2 linked regions of the Homo sapiens genome follow. The protein of the gene in region 1 purifies or fractionates together with the protein of each later gene. This does not show direct contact. Each region holds a gene or a part of one and is shown on either strand. Other genes may lie near its edges.

Evidence for each region.
Region 2: the proteins of KRT222 (region 1) and RUFY3 purify together in Homo sapiens (affinity purification with mass spectrometry; one large-scale study listed by BioGRID and IntAct). This does not show direct contact.

Annotation. Positions count from the first base shown.
Region 1 is NC_000017.11:40,662,378-40,666,324, reverse strand, and holds the start of KRT222 (keratin-like protein KRT222), read left to right. Parts: upstream 1-1,147; 5' UTR 1,148-1,225; coding exon 1,226-1,321; intron 1,322-3,947.
Region 2 is NC_000004.12:70,787,964-70,791,463, reverse strand, and holds part of RUFY3 (protein RUFY3), read right to left. Parts: intron 2,659-3,500; coding exon 2,491-2,658; intron 1,970-2,490; coding exon 1,872-1,969; coding exon of another isoform or gene 1,868-1,871; exon of another isoform or gene 1,567-1,867; intron 240-1,566; coding exon of another isoform or gene 167-239; exon of another isoform or gene 1-166. UniProt on the Homo sapiens protein: ARL8 effector that promotes the coupling of endolysosomes to dynein-dynactin for retrograde transport along microtubules. Acts by binding both GTP-bound ARL8 and dynein-dynactin.

The DNA.
Region 1 (3,947 bases):
CCCTGTAAGGGCTAGAACCCAGGTCTGATTATCTCCTGAACTGTGCTCCAGATACAATTCAGCCAAAGCCACTCCACAAATAACAATAATGATAGATCCACTCTCACGACATATTTCTGTCACATCTAGCAACCAGCTGGCAAGATTAAACCAGGAATTTAGAAGGGGAGAGAGAGAACGCAGAGGCAGATATGCAGGGGTAATACATGGAACACAAGCAAGTTGTCAAAGAGCCAGTCCCAGTGATGTCATACATCACTGAGCAACCTTGGGCAAGATGCCTCAACCTCTCTGGCCTCAGTCTTTTCATCTTTACAGGTTAGAAAATGTCAGGGATTGCAAGGATTGGATGGAATGATACGCCAAATACACCCTCCGAAGGGCTCAAGTGATTGCAACGATTGGATGGAATGGTACACTGACTACACCCTCCAAAGGACTCAAGGGTTCTTTTGGTGAATACACCAAAAGGTCTATTTCTTCATCCTTGTTAAAACTTTGGAAATGTTAACTCACAACTCTCATAGTCTACCAGCACTTATCTGCAACATTTTGAGAAAACTAAATATAATTTTCTTTTTTTTTTTTTTTTTTTTTTTTGGAGATGGAGTCTCACTCTGTCACCCAGGCTGGAGTGCAGTGGCTCAATCTCGGCTCACTGCAACCTCCACCTCCTGGGTTCAAGCAATTCTCCTGCCTCAGCCTCCCGAGTAGCTGGGATTACAGGCACCCACCACCACGCCCAGCTAATTTTTGTATTTTTAGTAAAGACAGGGTTTCATCATGTTGGCCAGGCTGATCTCGAACTCCCGACCTCAGGTGATCCACCCACCTCAACCTCCTAAAGTGCTGGGATTACAGGCATGAGCCACCATGCCCGGCAATTTTCTTATGTTATGCCCCATTTCCTTTTCACAAAAATGAACTCCCCCTCCCCTCAAAGTGCTCAATTTTTACAGGGAACCAGTACAGGTTTTTGAAATTTTCCTTTCCTTCATGAAGAATCTGACATTTCTACTATACCAATAACAATAGGAGCAAAGAGTTTACCCTGTATTTGCATAATTAGTTAGAAAGATGAGAATTTCCGTGGCCTCCGAAAAAGGAGCTCTGCATCTTTAAAACTCTGCGAGGCTCCCTGCCTTCCGCGCAGACCGAGCAGACTGCCGCAGCGACTCATCCTATCGATAAGGTTCAGTTAGCCAAGGTGGAGGATGGGAAAAGAATGGAACTGTCCCAGCTACTCAATGAGATCAGGGCAAACTATGAAAAGATCCTCACCAGAAATCAGATAGAGACGGTGCTCTCAACAAGGATCCAGGTAATGATTTCATACAGACAGGCACCTTCCAGAATAAGGAGACAGTCCATGTCTACCCAATTCCTGTCCCGGCCTCTCTGAGGTACAGTATTTCCTTTTCGATGCAGCATCTATTGGGGAAGGAATTTAGCTTCTACTGCAGTGTGACTGGGACTACAGGGGGAAATACTGTGATTATATTGTTAAATTGCCATTAAGTAAGTGTTGATTGATGCATTTGATTTTTATATAAATTGTGAGGTTCCTATCATTAACATGGGGTCAACATACCATAAAATGGTGCACTCTAACCTCTTACAATCTTCAGGAAGGAACCATTCCAAATACCCTTCAAAGATATTATTGGAGTTATTTACAGAGATAATTTAAATAACATCTTTAAAATGAAAAATCTTTAAGTAAGATTTATTAGCATGTACACTTTCTAGAGATATTTCTAAAAGGTTTCTATCATCTTTTTAACGAGTTCCATTTTATACCAGATTGTTATAAATAGAAATCATCTGAGTGTGTGAACATGGCATTCAGAAACAATGATATAAATTATGACCATTGAAATTCCCCAAATTGGTAACGATTCTCCACTAAGATTTTTGCTTCTGTACTATAAGATGAGAAACATTTCTTTCCATTACAAAGCTTGTAATATTTAAGTATTTAAAAAAGAGAAAGAGAGCCTACTTAGATAAGGACTAAATCCTAATTTCATAGACTTAGTTTTAAAGTAACAATCACCTTCAGCAAGTAATTAAGGTCTCAAGTCTTTAAACAAATTTACAAACAAATATTTTAGAAACAAAGATTAAGAAATTTAGGGGATTTTTTAGTTTACCTATCATATATGGGTTCAAGTTATCTTCCAAACCCTGAAATACAGCAAAAAGTTTACTTAAGAATATCACCCAAAATTTTAAAAAAAAAAATTGGTAGAAAAATGTCAGGCCTTTATTCCATTAGCCACTCATTTTTAGTTCCATTGTAAATTTCACCTCTAGATAACATTTTCAGCCTTCATAAAGAATGATCAACATCTTAGATTAAGCAAAGTCACTGGTACAGGTAAGCATTGGGATAGTTCATTCACCTTTACAAACAGAAGAAAAAAATCAATAGATGACAACTTCTAAAAATCATAAACAAAACACTTAACTTTGCAGTAGTAGAAATATGAGTTTAGTTTACAAGTCACAGGGCCAAAATGAGTAAATTCAAATGAAAAAGCAAGACTACGGTGAGTTTTGTTTAAAGTGTCTTTTAATTTGAAACTACTTTAGAGGATTTTCTTCCAAATAACTCAGAAAGTCAGCTGAAATAAATTCAAGACAGCCTGATTAGTTATTTTTTTAAATTTCTAAATAAGCTATTTTAGTTACAGATTGTTGTATAACACCCCAAAACTCATCTGGGACCTCAATCGTCTTGGGGCATGACTGGGCTCACTTATGTGTCTGGCACTTTGGCAGGGCATTGCCGAAAGGCTGGCTCTGCTGGGACTTTCTCTCTCACTTCACGTAGCCTCAGGGTCTCTCTCCATCTGGCCTTTCTACAGGATCTCTCCAGCAGGGTATCCAGACTTCTTGCATATTGGCCCAAGGCTCCCAAAAGCATAGAAGTGGAAGCTATCAGGCTTCCTAAGACTTAGGTCTAGAAGTGGCACAGCATTCCTTCTGCCTCATTCTACTGGTTAAAGCAAGACCCAGGTCAGCCCAGAGTCAATGTAGAAGGGGATCACCCTAGGACTCATCTTGGGAGATAGACTTCTTTAGGGGCCATCTTGGGACTGTAGTTACCGAACAAGCTTAGCTGCCAGTTCCATATTTGAAAGCCACAAGACCAGCAGATACCAGCATTTTTCTGTTTTCTTCTCTCCAAAATTCCTTACTTTACCTTCTGTAGTTGCTCTGGTAGGTGTTGCTTGCTGCCTGACTTTGCCAAGTTAACACTAAGAACAGATTTTCAACAAACCAAAAGAAATGTACGAATTTTGTTCTCCAATACCTTGCCCTAAACTTTATTCATAAACTTTCATTTACTTCAACGTTTTTTTAAAAAAATCTAATGTATGATAAAATTAAATTTTTAAATGTTAAAATATATTTTTATAAGAAAATTAAAAGTTATAAATTTTGCTTCAAAATGCTACAATCAATTCTATACATTGTTCTCACTGTTCCTGGGGCCAAATGTTAAAAATTCTGTCAACAGATACTTTCTTTTCATTTCAACATCAACATAAAAACATTTAAAGCTAAATATAAAATATTCTACTTTTTTAATAGGAGAATATTTAGAAAACAATCCTTAGAGAAGTCATTTTTATTATTTATTCATTTTATTACCCAGATACCCAAAATTAATATGCCTTTTAAAAAGATCATCTTGAAAAAGGTCAATCAACAGATTTTCTTAATATGGAAGTCTATTTGTGAGCCTTATTGCCTATAACAACTTAATTCTCTAAATTACTAGTAATGTATTTCCTAGCAGTATTTACGCCCTATCCCTATACCTGGTCCCAGAATTGATCAGTTTTGGGGGTACGGCTGTTTATCTGCTTCTGCAAAGCAGCCTACAAGAAAATGTGGGGGGAAATAGCTAATTTTCAATCCTTCCTCCTAGTGATCCA
Region 2 (3,500 bases), on another chromosome or scaffold:
CCAACCTATATTTCCAACTGGTTTTTTAAAAGTCCAACAAATTCAAAGTCAACTTTTTGGTGACATTTTATATAGAATCAGAGCTTAAATGTAGTAACTTTCAGATTTCTTCCTTTTACAATTAAGTTGTGATATCGGACTTGCGACGTGACCAACTTAAAAATGCCTAATGATGTTTTGGGATCAGTTTATTTGCTGCACTATTTAAGGTCTTTGCCTGTTTCACCAAATCCTTTTCACTAAATAAAATAAAAATGACAATGAAGTGAAAGGAGAATGAGAAAATGGATAAACAGGAAACACAAAAATAGCAAGAGAATAAGTCAGCTTAATACTCAAAGAGATAAGTCATTATTCTCTTTCTGTTTGCTTTAAATTCCAAGTCAAAACATCATTGAAAAGAAATTTGATACATTTCATTTCAAAAGCACAATTTATGAACAGTAAAATCATTTTGTTAAATCATAAACATATAACTGTTTATGAGCAAGTACCTAACCATCTTTCCTAGGTAGACTGATACATTTGTATTTGGCTATGTAAGAGGTTTCAGGTTTATTTATAAATTTGCCATTAAGTTTTGAGTTAACATTAATATGCACTGCTGTTCAGGACCCTTACTGGTTAAGAATCATCTGAATATAAGAAATCACCCATTAATCCATTCATTCATATATCTACTGAATGAATGCTTGTATATTCAAGGCACTGCGACAGATCTAATACGGGAACTTAAAAGATTCGTTAACTAATCTCAGGGAGCTTACACTCGCATCGGAGGAGACATATATAAAGAGTTAAAAGGTACAGTAGACAGTGAGAAGTGCCATAAGCAGTATAGATAGATATGAGTATGAAGCTATGGGAGTTCCCAGAAAGACAGATCATTTCTAGCTGCAAAGAGGTATCAGAGGAAACTCTGGGGAGGTGGCATTTGAGCCTAAACTTAAAAATGTATCTGACGAATAAGGGAGTGGGAAGAATTAGGACATTTCTAATTGGTGGAACTATTGGGAAAGAAATAAATGGGAAAAATGGGAAGTACAGGGACCAGCAGTTTAGTTTTGCTCAAGTGCAAGAAGGGTGACAAACAGGTGTTAAGGGTAGAAACATCAAATGACCTTGGGTACCACGTCACATTCATCCTTGAAGACTCAGCCATTTCTCTTGGCTGCTAAGTTGCCAGAGAGAAAATGGTGGTTTCACATAAGCACAGAAAGAGAGTAGCATAGGAAGAAGATGTGCTTTGGGCAGACTGAATTGTAGATACTGGTGGAAGATAGCTGCCCAAAGGATGAAAACTCAAGACTGGTCTCCAGATGAAGGTAAGAGCTGGGAAAACACACTGGAGGTGACAGTGGAAGCTACAGAACTACCCAGGAGAAAGAAAAGGGAGATAAGAGAAAAGGGTTAAAGAAGGGAGAGAAAGATCCAGAATAGATCCTTGGAGGACACCTATCTCTCAGTGCCTCTATATCCCCTAGCATCCAAGTATTCAAAGACTTCAGTGATGAACAATAAAATCACAGAATTACATACATACATTTAAGAGTCCTTCCATGCTTTTAAGTATCCTTCCTCTAACACATGACTCTGACATGGATTAAGAGTTCTGATGTTCAAAACAGTCATAAAAGGCTGACCTTTCTTTTTTTTTTTTAAAGGCTAGTCAAGTGATTGACATTTCCTAAAAACATTTCAGTCATACCTTAGAAAACACACATAACATTCAACTGGCTTTTTTCTACCAGAATGTCTGATGCTAATTTGGAAGAATTTCATGTATTTTCTATTTGCCGAATGTACAGCACATTCTTTTCACTTCAGCACTGACAATCCAAAGTGTTTCATTAAAGAAACAGGACTTTTACCTTTGTTCAAGTTGTTTAATGGTAGCAGCCATCTGATTAGTCTTCTCTTCCAAGCGACTGTTTAGTTCACTTTTCTGTTTTACTCCTAAGTCTGAACTCTGTTATGGAAAATAACGATAAACAACCTGTATAACATAAATCCTAAAATACAACCACACATGCCTTTTGAATCTAATGGTAAGTGGGAAAACAGAAATGTTCATATATTTCAATATCAGTTAATCCTGAAATGGAAAAAAAAGCAATTTATCTAAAGTTAGTATTGTTATATGCAGTGTGATCACAGTAATAGTTCATCAATGTATCACATTCCAGTGTAAAAGCTAATAGAATATATAACTTAGCTGGCACGGTAGACTGCAGAGTAGAAATTACCCTATAGGATAAAAAAGACCCTCATCCTCTACTATAATGTGAAAAGTGGCCATGGTTTTCTAGAACAGCAATACAGGATCCCATGGTTGTCTGATTCTGAAAGTAGTTTACTGGCAGCTAGCATCAAAATGAGATGTGATTCTTTCCTCTTGTAATTAAAGTGTGATTCTGGAGGATCAGATGGGAGGAGGGAAGCCCCAGGATTTTAGAGAGCCAGTGAGTCTATTCCTCATATTTCCCCTACCTGCAGCTTAAAGGCAAGTTCATGCTTGAGAGCTCTGAGGTCATCCAGCTGCTGCCGAAGAGATACCAGGGCATCCTGCTTCTCACAGACATCCTTCTCCAGCATCTTCATAGCCAATTCCATCTCCTGCCTCATGCTGATCTGCATCTCCAGTTCTTTCTCAACATCCTGCCCCCAAAGGTAAGTAAATTGCTTACACTCTGTTCCTTCAACTAAGTACAAACCATAATATTTCACAGGAAAAAGTACACCAAAACTCTCAGGTCTGAATATTCTGGCAAAATAGCTTAAGCTACCATTCATTTTCAGAGACATTAACAATAATTAATTAATAATTAACAATAATAATTAGGATATACAATAACATTTGCCCAATAATGTACAAATCTGAAAAACCTGCTAAGCCAAAGATAGTGTTATTTAATACATCTAAAATATATACATATTTGAGACACTTCAGTAGATATTACGACAACTGATGGTCATATCTTATTATAGAAATATACCTACAGGGTTACAGCAGTCAGCACAAAATGAAGCAGTTGCAGTCCTCCTAAATGTGAATGTTGTTGATATATTCAAGAGCCCAGGGAACCCAGAGGACCATCTGGGTCCCTGGGGTAACATCGCAATTACTGAGGATGATGACTAGTATGGTTACGAGGCGAACAGATTTTTTTTTTTTTTTTGAGACAGAGTCTCGCTCTGTCGCTCAGGCTGGAGTGCAGGGGCTCAGTCTTGGCTCACTGCAACCTCCACCTCCCGGGTTCAAGCGATTCTCCTGCCTCAGCCTCCTGAGTAGCTGGGACTACGGGTGCATGCCACCATGCCTGGCTAATTTTTTGTATGTTTAGTAGAGACGGGGTTTCACCATGTTGACCAGGCTGGTGTGAATTCCTGACCTCGTGATCTGCCCGCCTCAGCCTCCCAAAGTGCTGGGATTACAGGTGTGAGCCACCACACTCGGCCGCTAACAGAATTTTTAGTTCACTTAACATGAAACCTCTTTT